Regions from separate parts of the Homo sapiens genome. Here region 1 is linked to region 2. Evidence: fine-mapped expression QTL. Tissue or cell type: whole blood. Region 2 holds a variant in brackets; the other region holds the start of a gene. All regions are shown on one strand. Distances are between the middles of the regions.

Evidence for each region. PIP is the estimated chance that this variant, and not a neighbour inherited with it, causes the effect.
Region 1: MRNIP starts here. The variant in region 2 is fine-mapped to the expression of MRNIP in whole blood (TOPMed, PIP above 0.99).

The regions. Positions count from the first base shown.
Region 1 is chr5:179,855,483-179,863,585 of GRCh38, reverse strand. MRNIP (MRN complex interacting protein) reads left to right here and starts at 4,769. Exons shown (of 7, transcript NM_016175.4): 1 at 4,769-4,855. The coding sequence starts at 4,790. TBC1D9B (TBC1 domain family member 9B) reads left to right here. Exons shown (of 21, transcript NM_015043.4): 21 at 1-1,515. The coding sequence ends at 138. MRNIP-DT (MRNIP divergent transcript) reads right to left here and starts at 4,583. Exons shown (of 2, transcript NR_134283.1): 1 at 4,374-4,583; 2 at 2,303-3,556. RefSeq lists silencers at 4,208-4,337, 5,238-5,347 and an enhancer at 4,408-4,607.
Region 2 is chr5:179,780,703-179,788,805 of GRCh38, reverse strand. It overlaps the pseudogene LOC100884169. Among named protein-coding and RNA genes, the nearest start is that of LTC4S, 9.2 kb to the left of the region's middle. The variant T/C (reference allele first, on the strand shown) is at 3,891.

The DNA.
Region 1 (8,103 bases), 75 kb before region 2:
TCCATCCTGACGGAGTCCGTGCTGGTGAACTTCTTTGAGAAGAGAGTGGACATTGGACTCAAGATCAAGGACCAAAAGAAAGTGGAGAGACAGTTCAGCACCGCCAGTGACCATGAGCAGCCTGGAGTTTCCGGCTGATGCCTGCAGCTGTGAGGCCTGGCCCAAGGTGTCATCAGTGGGGCTGGCCTCATCTCCTCCTGCCTTTCCTCCCTTATCAGTTTCTCTTTAAAGGTGTGCCCCTCCTGCTCTCCCAGGAGCAGTGAGTTGTGAGTGGAAAGAAGGCTGGTGCAGACCCAGCTGCCTTAGACAGATTCCCTGGGCCTGCATCTCCTGGCGCCGGCTGCTTCTGGGCCCAGGAAGAGGCTGTGGCTCCCACCTTCCTTACACCTGGTGGGAGCCCGCCTCGCACCAGCTGCACCTGCCTAGCATTACAGGCTCTCAGATCTGCCCTTGCTTGCCTCATACCTCTGTGCTCCACACTGCGGCCAGGCCAGCTGAGTCCCTCCATCCGTGGATGCTTTCCTGCAGCTATGTGGTATGGGGGTCATTCCTGCCTCTTGGCACCAGGTTGGGGGGCATGTGCTTGTTGGGCACCAAAGTGATGGAACCCTCAGGTGCTCTCCGGGAGCCTGAACCTCCTGACTGAGGAACATGGGCAGAACATGTTTATTGCACAGAGTGGGCGCTGCGCACAGGCGTGGCTGTACACGTGCTCTCAGCTCATCATCCTTTCCAGTAACTTTAAAAAAACATCCCTCAGGTCCTGATATATTTCCTTGGATTCATTTCACTTGGCTAGAAATTACACTGTGCTCAATGCCTTAATAAATCCCTGAAAGAAATAAAAACCACTGTGTGCAATGCCTTGCTGTGGCCCCCAACCACTGCTTAGGCCTCCCAACTTCTCCCCAGGCCAAGTATGGGGCCCTGGCTGTGTTCTGGAAGTTCAAGACACTTAGTCCTCCACAGTGGGTGGAAGAGTGCAAGGTCTGCCAGGTCAGATGGAGACGCAGAACCTGCTGGTGCAAGCTGGGCAGGTCCTGACCAACCTGCATCAGGGGATGCCCTGAGCTCCACAGGTCTTCATGGGCAGGGGTTGTGGGTCCTGGTGAAGGAAGTGCATCCTCAGGCCTGGGCTGTAGCAAGCTGTCTGCCCTTGGGTTCAAGAACCAGACTGTGGAGCCAAAGGTGACCGCAGGGGGCCCCAGGGCTGGAGCCACAAGGATACCCTCACTTTGCATGAGGAGCTGAAACTGACCAGTGTCCAGTGTTAGCCCCCACATGGGGCTGCTCTTGCTTCTACTAAAAGATACAGCAGTTACCCCCTTATCCACAGGGGATACAGTGGATATCTAAAACCAGACCCCCAGTGGATGTCTAAAACCACAGATAATAACAAACCTTATACATACTGTTTTTTCCTATGCATACATACCTGTGATTAAGTTTATGAATTAGGCACCTTAAGAGATTGACAACAATAACTAATAATAAAATGTAACGGTTATACTGTAATGAAAGTTGTAAATGTGGTCTGTCTCACAATATCTTCTTGTACTGTACTCATCTCTTTTCCAGGTGGCTGTTGACTCTGGGTAACTAAAGCTGCAGAAGGTGAAACTCAGGTACTATTGTATATCTCTGTGGCTGCTGTTTTTGTTTTAATTAAGTAGCTTTGTTTTTTTGTTTTTTTGTTTTTTTGTTTTTTGAGACCAAGTCTTGCTCTGTTGCCCAGCATGGAGTGCAGTGGCGTGATCTCAGCTCACTGCAACCTCTGCCTCCTGGGTTCAAGCAATTCTTCTGCCTCAGCCTCCCAAGCAGCTGGGACTACAGGCGTGCACCACCACGCCCAGCTAATTTTTCTATTTTTACTAGAGATGGGGTTTCACCATATTGGCCAGGCTGGTCTCAAACTCCTGACCTCGTGATCCACCCGCCTCGGCCTCCCAACATGCTGGGATTACAGGCGTGAGCCACCATGCCCGGTCTGCTTGTTTGTTTGTTTTAGAGACAGACTGGAGTGCTGTGGCATGACCATAGCTCATGGCAGCCTCAAACTCTTGGCCTGAAGTAATCCTCCTGCCCCAGCCTCCCTAGTAGCTGGGACTACAGGCATGAACCAGCATGCCTGGCTTCAATTTCCTTTCTAGTATTTACACAAAGTACCATAAAATAATTTCAAATGATTTATACCAAAAAGACCATTGTTGGCCTTAATATAATTAAGATATAATAACCCCACATATTTGGCAATTTTAAGTCTTACACTGATTATATTCAATTAGATTTGAATAACTTGGAATTTGGATAAATGGCTTTTTATTTCCCATTTTTTGTCTTTACAGAGGTAAGATAAATGTTTTTAATATATGGAAGTATAAGCTTGTGAATACACCAAAGAAATTAACCAAAGAATAGGAAAGAGGAATCTGGCCTATTCACGTGATACAATGTACGAAAATGTACAATAGTACTTTAATCCATAAATCATTCAACCTGGGAAGATAACTCAAAATGTTTAACAACCAGAACAGTAACATTAAATAATATATAGATAATACAAATAAAAAATTTAAATTTTATAAGTAAACATGAATATTTTAAAACTGCTTACCAAGTAATATAAGTTGCATCAAACCACTCATCAAATCATTCTTATAATTTCCAAGAAAAAAAACTATATACATGAATTTTTAAAGGATTACCGGTTCATTGCCAAAAGGAGAAAAATATACAGAAAAGTAGAACAATTTTTCCTAGTGCTACAGATTACTCAGTATTTTGGTGTTTATTCTGTATTTTTTTTCAGAGTTTAACTGATGTCATATATGAAATTTTTATTCTACTCCTTTCATTAAGCATAAAACATTTTTTGCAGATGCTTTCTGTTCTCAGCCACAGTAGCTCAAACGTAGAAATGAAGGAAAACCACCCAAATGAGAAACAGTATTCAGAGCTTGCTACAGCAAGGGAGTCAGCAACATCCCCGGTGTGGGTAGGCGCAAGGACGCAGGGGGTGGAAAACGGGGAAGGCTCCAGGTGGTTCTGACCGCAGGCTGTTGGAAACTGGAGGTGAGCTAACAAGAAGCAGGATGTTTTCTGTGACTGGTTTGGGGAGCGCTTTCTTGGGTTGGTTCTGACATGGGGAGGGTGGTACAAAAAATAGAGGAGCAAGCAGTCCTGACCACGTCCTTCCCAAGCAGCCGACTGCCCGGTTACTGCAGAGGCTGCAGTCAGTTTATTGTCATTCGTTATCTGACCATTGTCTATTGGCATATTGTCTCTCAATTTTTTTTTCTAACTACTTACTGTACAAAAGTTGGAAAAATTTAAAAATTAGCATTACCTACGACCTTAGCCACACACACACACACACACGCCAGAAAATAATGCCGGTGTCACAGAAGTCAAACGATGTACTGTAATTCTGTAACCTTGCCTCTCCACAGCACGTTGTCACTTCAAACTCAGGTTCTTGCTGATGGAACTGCCTAAGAGTCCGTGCCGTTCTTCAGAACACTGATTTCCATTTCTTCCTAGTATTCTTCAGGGAACACTAGGGAATGAATAATAAATCACCTAGGTGAAGGGATTCCTTTCTTGGGGTAGCAGTATTGCCAGGTTGCTTTCCACGGTTTTGCACTTGACCGTTCTCCCAGCACCCTGTCAGAGGGGTAGCCCTCCCTGCACCCTTGTCAGGATTGGGTGTTTTCTTCAACGGGATGGTTTCTGCTGTTAAAAGCGAGTGTCGGCCGGGTGCAGTGGCTCACGTCTGTAATCCCAGTACTTTGGGAAGCCGAGGCGGGTGGATCACCTGAGGTCAGGAGTTCGAGACCAGCCTGGCCAACATGGAGAAACACCGTCTCTACTAAAAATACAAAAATTAGCTGGGCGTGGTGGCGGGCATCCGTAATCCCAGCTACTGGAGAGGCTGAGGCAGGAGAATCACGCCACTGCACTCCAGCCTGGGCGACTGAGCGAGACTGTCTCCAAAAACAAAAAACAAAAAAAAAACACCTCGCTTTTTTGGTGATAGTCACTGTGTAAAAGTTGGAAAAAAAATTAAAATTACAACCCTAGACACCGAGGGTTGTACGGTGGGAGGTAATTTTAATATTTTTTGTATTTTATTTTCCAACGAGGTTACAACCCTAAGCCACACAGGGTTGCGGCGTGAGCGTCGGGCTGCGGGGGCGCCTCCACCCTCCGTAGGGTGGGCCTGGGACGCTCCCGGGGCTGCAGGGGGACCGGCTTCGCGCTCGGCGGCCGCGCGCCTCCGCCGCCCTCTCCGGGAAGCGTGGGTGTGGTGAGCCCCTCCGTCTCCCCGTATTCCACCCCGGGCTCCGGTTCAAAGGCTAACTGTTCGCTGCTACCTAAAAGCACGGCAGCGCAGGCCTGGCAGGGCGGCCCCTCAGCCCCGCTCCGCGTTGTGTCCAAGGACTGGTCAGCGGAGGCCCTGTCGTCTCAATTCCAGTCTCCCCAGGGCCGGAACCAGTGCCTTAGGAAGATGCGGGCACGGCCCTGGTCAGACGACGAGTCGGCTACCAGGAATCCCGCACCCAGGACTCTTTCCGAGGTCGGAGGGGCGCAGATGACCAGCGAGAGGCGCGGCAGGCTAGAGGGATCCCAGTGCGCAGGGGCGGGGCCGCGGCGGCCGGAGCGAAGAGTATAAGCGCATGCGAGACGGCGTAGGGGACTAGAGGGTTCGGAGCGCGTGCGTGGGGCGGGGCCGCGGCGGGACAAATGCAGAGCGCACGCGCTTGGCTGCCTGGCGACTGCACAAGCAGGGATGGCGTCGCTTCAGCGTTCTCGGGTGCTACGCTGCTGCAGCTGCCGCCTCTTCCAGGCGCACCAGGTCTGGCGGGTGCCAGCCCCCTCCTCCTCCTCCGGCGCGGGGACAGCGGACGGGGAGTGGCGGGGCTGTGGGTGTTGTCTCGAATGGCTCCGGGATGCACCGGGCCCGAAGGAGTGCAGGGACCGCTGAGGGCGGGTCTCATTGGGGTCGCCCCCGCATAACGTTCTGAGCTTTTTGTTTGGTTCTTGTACAAACCAGAGGTAATGGTTCTGCGGAGGTGGCCTCTTGTGAATTGTAGCAGGTAGTGGGAGAATCCGGTTGAGTATAGCATCCTTTACGCAGAGCCTACCCCACGAAGTAGCGCTGTCGCAGTTTCAGTGAGAGGGGGAGGACGGTTCTTAGAGACCGAGCGCGCCGCGGCGGCGTCCCTGCTCCACACCTGGGCGCCCTCTCCGTCGCCCCGCGCCTCTGCCGCCGTCCGTTTCCGCGGGGCCAGGGACTTGATATGGCTGTTCGCCGACGCATAAACCACGGGCCCCGGAGTCTTAAAGACAGATAATCTGTGTTTCTAGGACATATTTGCCTCCCTAACTTTCAGCGTGCCAGATAGAGAATGCCACTTAACCTTTTCCGGATCGCACCTGTCTCCCTGCTTGATATCACTTAACACTGCAGTCACCGTATCTGCTTCTGATAGTCCCTCCCTCCTAATTATTGGTAATCTGCTATGCCCTGAGAAAGAATAGCATCAGACTTCTTCTTCTTTTTTTTTTTTTTTTGAGACGGAGTTTCGCTCTTGTTGCCCAGGCTGGAGTGCAATGGCGCGATCTCGGCTCACCGCAACCTCCGCCTCCCAGGTTCAAGCAATTCTCCTGCCTCAGCCTCCCGAGTAGCTGGATTACAGGCATGCGCCACCATGCCCAGCTAATTTTGTGTTTTTAATAGAGACAGGGTTTCTCCATGTTGGTCAGGCCGGTCTCGAACTCCTGACCTCAGGTGACCCGCCTGCCTCGGCCTCCCAAAGTGCTGGGATTACAGGCGAGAGCCATTGTGCCCGGCGTGGATCAGACTTGTTTAAGAGGTATGTTAAAAAGTCAGCAAGATGCTGAGTATGTGTCTGTAAGCTTGCATTTAATGCTAAGCGTTTGTAAGGGCCATTTTAAGGGCTCAGAAACTTTTTACTTATTTTCTTTCGGGAGCTGGGTCCTAAGAGTTGCAAATAAAGGGAGATCATTTGCATTTTTAAATTATTCCACGTCTAATGTTTCATGCTGTTTTTTAAAAACAAATTTTCCGTTTATTTTTATTTCCTTTTTTTGTTTTTGAGACAGAGTCTCACGTCTCACTCTGTCGCCAGGCTGGAGTGCAGTAGCGTGATCTCGGCTCACTGCAACCTCCGCCTCCTGGGTTCAAGCGATTCTCCTGCTTCAGCCTCCCGAATAGCTTGGATTACAGGCGCGCGCCACCAAGCCCAGTTAATTTTTGTATTTTTAGTAGAGACGGGGTTTCACCATGTTGACCAGGAAGGTCTCCATCTCTTGACCTCGTGATCTGCCCGCCTCGGCCTCCGAAAGTGCTGGGATTACAGTGCTGGTGTTACGGGTGTGAGCCACTGCGCCCGGCCTCTATTTCCTTGTTTGTTTTCCTGTTTCACTCTTCCATGTTCACCAGTGTTATTTATTTATTTATTTACTTATTTATTTTGAGACAAGGTCTCGCTTTGTCGCCCAGATTGGAGTGCAGTGGTAACAATCACAGCTCGCTGCAACCTGCATCTCCCGGGCTCAGCTGATCCACCTCAGCCTCCCACGTAGCTGGTACTACAGGTGTGGGCCACCATCCCCAGCTAATTTTTATATTTTTTGTAGGAATGAGGTTTCGGCCGTGTTGCCCAGGCTGGTCTGGAACTCCTGGGCTCAAGTGTTCTTCCCGCCTTAGCTCCCAAAGTGCCGGGACTACGGGTGTGAGCCAGCGCCCCTGACCCTCGTGGTCATTTTCAACCTTATGAAATGTGAGTTGCTTGGCCCCGGTGGCTCACGCCCATAATCTCAGCACTTTGGGAAGCCCACTAGGGCAGATCACTTGAGCTCAGAAGTTCCAGAGCAGCCTGGGCAACGTAGCGAGACCTTGTCTCTACTAAAATTCAAAATAAAATAGCTAGATGTAGTGGCGCGCATCTGTAGTCCTAGCTACTCAGGGTCGCTGAGGCAGGAGAATCGCTTCAGTCCAGGAGGTAGAGGTTGCAGTGAGCCGTGTTCACACCACTGCACTCCAGCCTGGGCGACAGCCAGACCCTGTCTCAAAAACAAAGAAAAATTACTTGAAACCAAAGAGGACGGCAAGTCGGCTATGTACTACTTTAATTTTAATTGCAAGTCGGCTGTGTACTACTTTAACACGTTTAACTTCAACAACCTTTGACTTAGGCATCATTCCCATCTTAGAGACATGAGAATTCCGAAATACACGGGAATCAAGTGGTTTCTCCATCTAGGGAGTGGCAGAACCATACTATCTCAGCAGTTCCCACAATTAATTCCTTTACCAGGTTCTGTGAGTCCTAAACTTTTAAAAAGGCTTTTCTTGGCCGGGTGCGGTGGCTCACACCTGTAATCCCAGCACTTTGGGAGGCCGAGGGGGGCAGATCATGAGGTCAGGAGTTCGAGACCAGCCTGGGCAATGTTGTGAAACCCCGTCTCTACTAAAAATACAAAAAATACAGGTCGTGGTGGCGGGCACCTGTAATCGCAGCTACTTGGGAGGCTGAGGCAGGAGAATCACTTGAATCCAGGAGGCAGAGGTTGCAGTGAGCCGAGATCACGCCACAGTGCTCCAGCCTGGGCAACAGAGCCAGACTCTGTCTCAAAAAAAAAAAAAAAAAAACAACTTTTCTTACTTGTTTATATACTCATAGAAAATCCACAGTTTTATTGGTGTTTTAAGGTAGAAGCTGAGAAGTAAAATTGCTAAGTCATTACCCAGTTCAATTTTTGGTAGGTGCTCATTGTCCTCCTTAGAATCCTTTTGGATACTTCCCCCGAAAACCTCATGATTTTGTATTAGGATCATATTAATCGTATTAATGTTAATGGATCAACCTAGACATCTTTGTGGTGTTAAACATGATCCATTACGTTTCTTCAAGTAACCTTGGTATCCCTTGGTAACATTTTATTTGTTGCTGTTATAAATGGACTCTTTATCAATTATGTGTTCTAATTAGATGTCTGCTCATATAAAAGCTATATTAATTTTTGAAGGTATCTTAATTTTGTACCTAACCACTGTATTAGACTATCTGGTTTTAG
Region 2 (8,103 bases):
TTGCCACTAAGAAAGGCACACAGGCCTTGGCGGGCCTCTGGAGGCTTTGGATGCAACACAGTTCACACTCGGGACTGCTGCTTTGACTCCTGCCAGGATGCAGGGCAAGCAACCTTCTGCTTGGTTCAGAAAATCGAGCACACCCCCTGGTGCTAGAAATAGCTGTGGTAGAGACAGGGCCAGGTGGTGTTTCTAGCAGAAGCCTCGTGAGAGAGTCATAGTGCATAATCTTATGGTCCCAGATCAAGGCTGTGCCTTCCCCAGCAGGGAATGGACATTGTTCCAAAAACAAAACAAATGAAAACTGGACCTTGGGACATTGGGGCACCAAGTGACTGCGTGGCCAGGGCAGTCTGCCACAGGAGCTGGTTCTGTTGGGCCCAAGAAGTCCAACAGTGTGCAGGCCCAAGGCCATCCTTCCTGCAGTAGAAGGATGCTCCAGCACCCACGGCATCCCAGTGCACAGGTTAGCACAAGCAAACTCCTATGTCACCCACTGCTGTGGCTCCAGCATGCTCCCTGACAGTAGCCAAAACCTGCCTCCAGGGAGAGGCTCTCTTTCACCAATGGCTTGTGTTTCCAGGCTCCTGATGGTGTCTCCTGATGCACAGAAGCTCTTAAATTGACTGTAACAAATGAATCAGTGTTTTACCTTATGGTTAACTCTTTTTGTATTTTGTCTAATAAATTCTTCCCAACTCTGAGGTCATCAAGATAGTCTCCTATATTCAGGTCTGCAATCTACGGTAATCCCAGCTACTTGGGAGGCTGAGGCAGGAGAATCGCTTGAACCCGGGAGATGGAGGTTGCAGTGAGCAGAGATTGCGCCATTGCACTCCAGCCTGGGCGACAGGGTGAGACTCCTTCTCAAATTAAAACAACAACAACAAAAAAAACATTCATTCATGAGGGTTCTGCCCTCATGACCCAATCACCTCTTACTAGGCCCCACCTCCCAACACTGTTGCACTGGGGATTAAGTCCAACACATGAACTTTTGGGGCATGCATTCAGCAGATTTGCTTTGTCTGGATATTTCATATAAATGCAACTATACAATATGTGGTCTTCTGTGTCTGGCACAACTTAGCAAAATGTTTTTGAGGTCTTTGTAGTATTTTCACAACTTTTTTGTAAGGTTGAAAATATTTCAAAATGAAAAGCTAAAAATAGAAAACATGGCCGGGAGCCGTGGCTCATACCTGTAATCCCAGCACTTTGGGAGGCCAAGGCGGGTGGCTCACCTGAGGTCAAGAGCTGGAGACCAGCCTGGCTAACATGGTGAAACCCCGTCTCTACTAAAAACTACAAAAATTAGCCAGGCATGGTAGTGGGCACCTGTAATCCCAGCTACTCAGGAGGCTGAGGCAGGAGAATTGCTGACTCCTGCCAGGATGCAGGGCAAGCAACCTCCTGCTTGGTTCACAAAATCCGGAGGCAGAGGTTGCCGTGAGCCAGGATTGTGCCACTGCACTCCAGCCTGGGCGACCAAGCGAGACTCTGTCTCAAAAACAAACAAAAAAAAGAAAACATGAATTGCTCGTGGCCCTTTCCCGCGTGGAAGGGACTCAGTTTGCACCGGGTGGTGACTGGTCTCCTCACTCAGTCCCTTGAGGAGACCAACGCTGGTCTCTGTCACTGGCAGGCTGGAGACTTGGGCACTTGGGTGGCAGATCCGGGTTTGTCTGGGTGAGCCAGAGCCACGATGCTGGGATCCCGCTGGGCCCCACCCCTGCCACTGCTGCTTACTGCTCTTGAGCCCGCCTTGCTGGGCCCAGCACTCGGGGGCCATGACAGAGGCTGGCTGGTGGTCACTGCAGCTGCAACTGGGACTCAACTTTGCTGTGTTTGCAGCAGACTGCTGTCAGCTGCTAGGGATCATTTGCGTTTCGTTGGGCCCAGACTGGAAAATCAAATGGGCATCTATGGCCAGGCGTGGTGGCTCACTCCTGTAATCCCAGCACTTTGGGAGGCTGAGGTGGGCGGATCACCTGAGGTCAGGAGATTGAGACCAGCCTGGTCAACATGATGAAACCTCGTCTCTACTAAAAATACAAAAATTAGCTGGGCGTGGTGGCGGGAGCCTGTAATCCCAGCTTGGGAGGGTATGGCAAGAGAATCGCTTAAACCCAGGAGGCGGAGGTTGCAGTGAGCCGAGATCGTGCCACTCTACTCCAGCCTGGGCGACAAGAGCGAAATTCCATCTCAAAAAAAAAAAGGCACCTATGAGGCAGACGCCACCCTGTGTCTGACCCACTGGGAAGCAAGGCTCCTTGTCATTTCTTCTCTGGGCCTTCCCCACTGTGGCTTCCCAGGCCAATACCCCGTGTGAGGCTTCTGTCAACTATGAAGTGAGTCCTCTTTGATTAGATATCAAGGCCAAGGAAATGGCTGGGTGGAGCTGTGGACCCAGTGGTCCCACTGGGAGCTGGGCCTAGGCCAGGATGATTCTTCTTTCTTCTTTCTTCCTTCTTTCTTCTCTCCTCCTCCTCTTCTTCTTCTTCCTTTCTTCTTCTTCCTTCTCTTTCTCCTTCCTCTTCTTTTCTTCCTCCTCCTCCATTTTTTTTTTTTGAGATGGAGTTTCATTCTTGCTCCTGGAGTATAATGGCACAATCTCGGCTCCCTGCAACCTCTGCTTCCCAGGTTCAAGCGATTCTCCTGCCTCAGCCTCCTGAGTAGCTGGGATTACAGGTGCGCCCCACCACTCTCTGCTAATTTTTTGTATTTTTACTAGAGACAGGGTTTCACCATGTTGTCCAGGCTGGTCTTGATCTCCTGACCTCAGGTGATCCACCCACCTCGGCCTCCCAAAGTGCTGGGATTACAGGTGTGAGCCACTGAGTGCAGCCCTCCTGCAGAACATATTTGGCTGGTAGGTGTCAGGGCCATCACAAACAGAGTACAGCCGACCCTTAAACATTGTGGAGGTTAGAGGCGCTGACCCCTGCACAGCCGAAAATCCACTACATCTTTTGGCCCCTCCAAAACTTAACTACCAATAGCCTACTGTTGACGGAAAGCCTTAGAGAGAACATAAAGAGTCCACGAACACCTGCTTTGTATGGGAAGTGTGTTGTCATACACTGTGTTCTTACAATAAAGTAAGCTAGAGAAAAGAAAATGTTCAGAAAATCATAAAACACATTTATAGTACTGTACTGTATCAATACCGTGCGTTTATGTCATCCATTTACAAGATGAATCGGCTGGGAGGGTGGCACCCGTGGCTGCAGACCTCAATCTATAATACCTATCAAGCAACTTAAATTGTTCTTATCGTCATGACTTTCCTTTGCTTCTTGGAGGCACTTGCAGCATCACTAATGGCACGTTGTATGGGTCCCATGGTGTTACTGAAGATTTACAGTACTGCACCAAACATGATGAAAAAACACAAGAACTGACAGAGATCCCTTTTTTTTTTTTTTTAAATAAAGTCTTGCTCTGTTGCCCAGGCGGGAGTGCAGTGGCACGATCTCGACTCGCTGCAACCTCTGCCTGCCAGGTTCAAGTGATTATCTTGCCTCAGCCTCCCGAGTAGCTGGGATTACAGGTGTGCGCCACCACGCCTGGCTAATTTGTATATTTTTAATAGAGACAATTAAAAGGTCAGCAGGAAAAGGTTTCACCATATTGGCTAGGCTGGTCTTGATCTCCTGACCTCGGCCACCCCAAGTGCTGGGATTACAAGCATGAGCTACTGCGCCCAGCCGAGAGATCCCTTTTTACTGTGATCTACAATTTACTGGAGGGACAAACTGCTCCCTTGGAGCTGATGAGACGCATGGCGCTTTAAGCAGATCATCGCCACTCTCAAGTCCACTGCAGTAACTACAGGAGATGGCTGTGAGATCAGCAGGGCAGTACAGTATGTGCTACGGTCAACTGTA[T/C]GCAGTTATAAGTTTTTTGTCAAACAATTTTAATCCAGTTAATGGTAAGCAAAGTGCAATGCCATGAAAAGCCCTGTATTTTGCGTGTTTAAACTGTTTTTCATTGTCTTTGCTTGTCAGGTTTTGAAGATGGGACCCGCTCCTGTCTTCTTTCTAGTGGTAGAAAATGGCACATATTGTTCTGGGGTGCCACTCACGCTTAACTTATGGTTTGTCCAAAGAATCTGCGAGCAGGAGGTGGTTTTGTTGTTGGAGGATCATGAGTCTGAGTGAAGCAGAGGATGCCACTTGGGAGGCACCATGCTTCCAGCCACATCCCAGAATGTTTTTGTCACTCATTTCAGTATATGTGACCCATCAGTGGTAGCCAAACGTTGCTTGTTGTCTTCATAGTATTTGTTTCCATATTTTTCCTCCCCCACTTATGTGCCAACCCTCCCATCATTTGCCCTGAAAAAAATTCATAACTAGCCATGGAGGCAGCTGTAGCTGCTGACCTGCTGCAAGCTGGGCTTCAGGACCTGCAGTCATTTGGCCTCGTCTTTCAGGCTGCGGCTATATTTATACTGCACCTTTACATTTCTCTTAACTACAAATGTGCCACGTAGTGTTTGCATGTGTAACTTTTGACCAAAAAAACTTTTTTTTTATTTTCTTTTTTGAGATGGAGTCTTGCTCTGTCCCCCACATTGGAGTGCAATGGCGCGATCTCGGCTCACTGCAACCTCCGCCTCCCAGGTTCAAGTGATTCTCCTGCCTCAGCCTCCCCAGTAGCTGGGATTACAGGTGCCCACCACCACACCCAGCTAGTTTTCATATTTTTAGTAGAGACGGGGTTTCACTAGGTTGGCCAGGCTTGTCTCAAACTCCTGACCTCAGGTGATCCACCCGCCTCGGCCTCCCAAAGTGCTGGGATTACAGGCGTAAGCCACTGCCCCCAGTAAAAAACCTTTTTTTTGGAGACAGGGTCTTGCTATGTTTTCCAGGCAGGAGTACAGTGGTGTGACCTTGGTTCACTGCAGCCTCAAACTCCTCGGCTCAAGCAATTCTCCTATCTCAGCCTCCCAAGTAGCTAGGACTACAGGCATGTGCCACCATATCCAGCTAATTGTAGAGACGAAGGTCTCACTGTTTCCCAGGCTGGTCTGAAACTCCTGGCTTCAAGTGATTCTCCCACCTCAGCCTCCCAAAGTGTTAAGATTACACGTGTGAGCCACTGCACCTAGACTAACTTCTAACTTTCTGTAATAGATTTGTGTATATTTTATGGTAGTAAATGATAAAATAGACTAGTACCTACAAATATTTTATGCGTCCATGACATACCTAGCTTTTTCTTAATTTGTTCACTATCTCTAAGGCAACACGGTTCAGTTGTGAGTTTTTTCAAATTGTCACAAATTTCAAAAAAAATTTCCAATATATTTATTGAAAAACCCACATGTAAGTGGCCCCAGGCAGTTGAGACCTGCGTTGTTCAGGGGTCAGCTGCATTTCCACTCTCCCACACCCGCTTCTCTGGGCGTTCGTTCGCTTCTTGCAGAGCTGCCACGGTTGCCCCTAGGTTGCTATTCTCTTCCTTGTGGGCCATGGCTTCCTGGGAAGTTTCAGAGAGCCGACCGAGCTGGCAGCCTACGGGCACTGCTTCCTGGGGGCTCTGCAAGGGTGCTGAGTCCTAGGTCATAGCAGAGCCCCATATGGCCATGCCCTTGTCTCAGGCACACTCCTGCTCCCCCCAGGCAGCTCATCTTCTTTCTTCTCTGGCAGGCCCAGCACCCTCCTGCTGACCTTCTTGGTCCAGGGGCCAGGAGGGGTGGTGAGCACAGATCCTAAGGGGAGGTGGCAGAGGCCTGGGCATGACCTTCAAACAAGAGCAAAGCACCGGCCCTTAACAGGGAGGAGTGGGCTTAGAGGTTTCAGGGTGTGGGGGAGGGTGGCGGGGCTGGGGTGTCCAGGTTTTCTAGAGTTCTAGAGTATCGATCCAGATGTCCCCATCCCAGTGTAAGGGTCCCACATTCCTAACTAGGACAATGACCTTGGTATGGCACACTCGGCTAGGTTGAAAGTTCTACCTTCTTGGAGCTCTGAAGCCTTAGTAACAACCCCATGCCTGATCCCTTCAGCTGTGTCCACCCTCTTGCCTGGCTGCCAAGGAGGCCTCTAACGGATCTCACATCGTGTCTTTTCTAGTGATTAGTCATGATCAGCTTTTCATTATCTTTCTCCGAGGTATCACCTATAACCCCCGCAACATCTCTCTCAAGGTCACAGTCACTCCTCCACTTACACTTCCCAAAGGCCTAGGGTACTCTATTCCCTTCCCCAGTGTCCTGCCCTGGTGCCACCACAGCGAACGTTTAACAGTTCCTCTTTACAGCTGTCCCACTTGCCACAGGTGATGGGGTCATCATGGCCAGCAGTCAGCAGCGAGCCAGCTTACAGTCGGCTTCCTGGGACCACTCCCCGCACCAAGTCTCTCGAGCCAGGTGCCCCAAAGGCAGATTTCAAAGGGCATCAGCACCACTCATAAGGGAGCAAGGGCTACTGGATTGGGCAGGCGAGAGGTGGAACTGAGATGCAGACGCAGCAGAGGCCTCAAGACGACAGCACCGGTGCAGTGGAGCCAGGATGGCTCTTTGGAGATGTCCCAAATTGAGGCAAGGGTGTTGGGGTCTCCATACTCCCATATCGACAAGTCTCCAGACATGGGCTGCCCCTGGAAGAGGGCATAACCTTGGGCAGCTCCCCTCCACTGAACACAATTCCCAGGAAGAGTCAGCTATGAGCTGGCAGCAGCTCTGAACAATGAGTGTCCAACACTCCTGGAAATGGGTCTCAGTCCTGACAGGTATCTGGAGTGTATCACAGCCTCTGTAACTGTCCGCTCAGTCTGGTCCAATCTCCCCGCTTTGGGACAGCCACAGAGAGGTCCCATACATGGTTAGCAGTGGCACACTCAGGCTTAGACTCGCCCTGTTCTCCTGCTCTAGTGTTCCTATAATGCCATAGGTTTACTAAGAAGTGGACCCAGGGGAGGGGAATCCAGGATCAACTGGATAGAGTAGGTTAAATGCAAGGAATGACAGACAGCTGCAAAGTTTAAGGAACATGCCTGTTACTGCACAAGCAAGAATCAAAAAGAAGCCACAGATTTATCTTTTTATGTTTTAAGGGACAGGGTTGGCTGGGTGTGGTGGCTCATGCCTGTAATCTTAACACTTTGGGAGGCTGAGGCAGGAGGCTCGCGTGAGCCCAGGAGTTTTGAGACCAGCCTGGGCAACATACTAAGACCCTGTCTCTACAAATTTTTTTTAAAAAAATTAGCTTGGCATGGTGGTACACGCCTGTAGCCCCAGCTACTCGGGAGGCTGATGTGGGAGGAGTGCTTGAGCCCAGGAGGTGCAGGCTGCAGTGAGCTATGATCATGCTACTGCATTCCAGCCTGAGCAATTCATAGTGAGACCATCTCAAAAAAAAAAAGAGACAGTCTTGCTATGTTGCCTAGGCTGGAGTGCAGTGGCTACTCACAGGTAAAATCATAGCTCACTGCAGCCCCAAACTCCTGGCCTCAAGCGATCATCTCTCTTCAGTCTCCTGCGTACCTGAGACTACAAGCAAAGGCCACCATGCCCGGCAAGATTTAATTTTTCTCATTTTTCAGGCAGTATCTCACTCTGTCACCCAGGCTGGAACACAGTGGTACCATCATGGCTTACTGCCGCCTCGCCCTCCCAGTCTCAAGCAAGCCTCCCACCTCAGCCTCCCTAGTAGCTGGGACTACAGGAGTGTGTCACCACGCTCGGCTAACTTTTTGTAGAGATGGGGTCTCACCATGTTGCCCAGGCTGGTCTCAAACTACTGGACTCAAGCGATACTCCTGCCTTGGCCTTCCAAAGTGCTGGGATTATAGGCATGAGCCACCGCACCCTGCCAAGATTTAAATTTTTTATTACTTGGGGGCTAGGACCTCCTTAGGCCTCTAGCTCTAGAGAGCTCGGACGGCAGTATCTATAGCTCTTGAAGATTCTGCATGTGGTTGGACTCTGTCTTGCGTTATATAAAATCATCTGTTATTACAAGTATAGAACCAGCCTAAAACTTTAAAATTCATGAGAAATGTTATCAGTAGTAATAAATCCAGAAGTAGTGAGCAAGCAGTTGTCTCTGCTACATAAAATGTAGTTAGATCTTAATAAGGATGCAAAATTCCAGT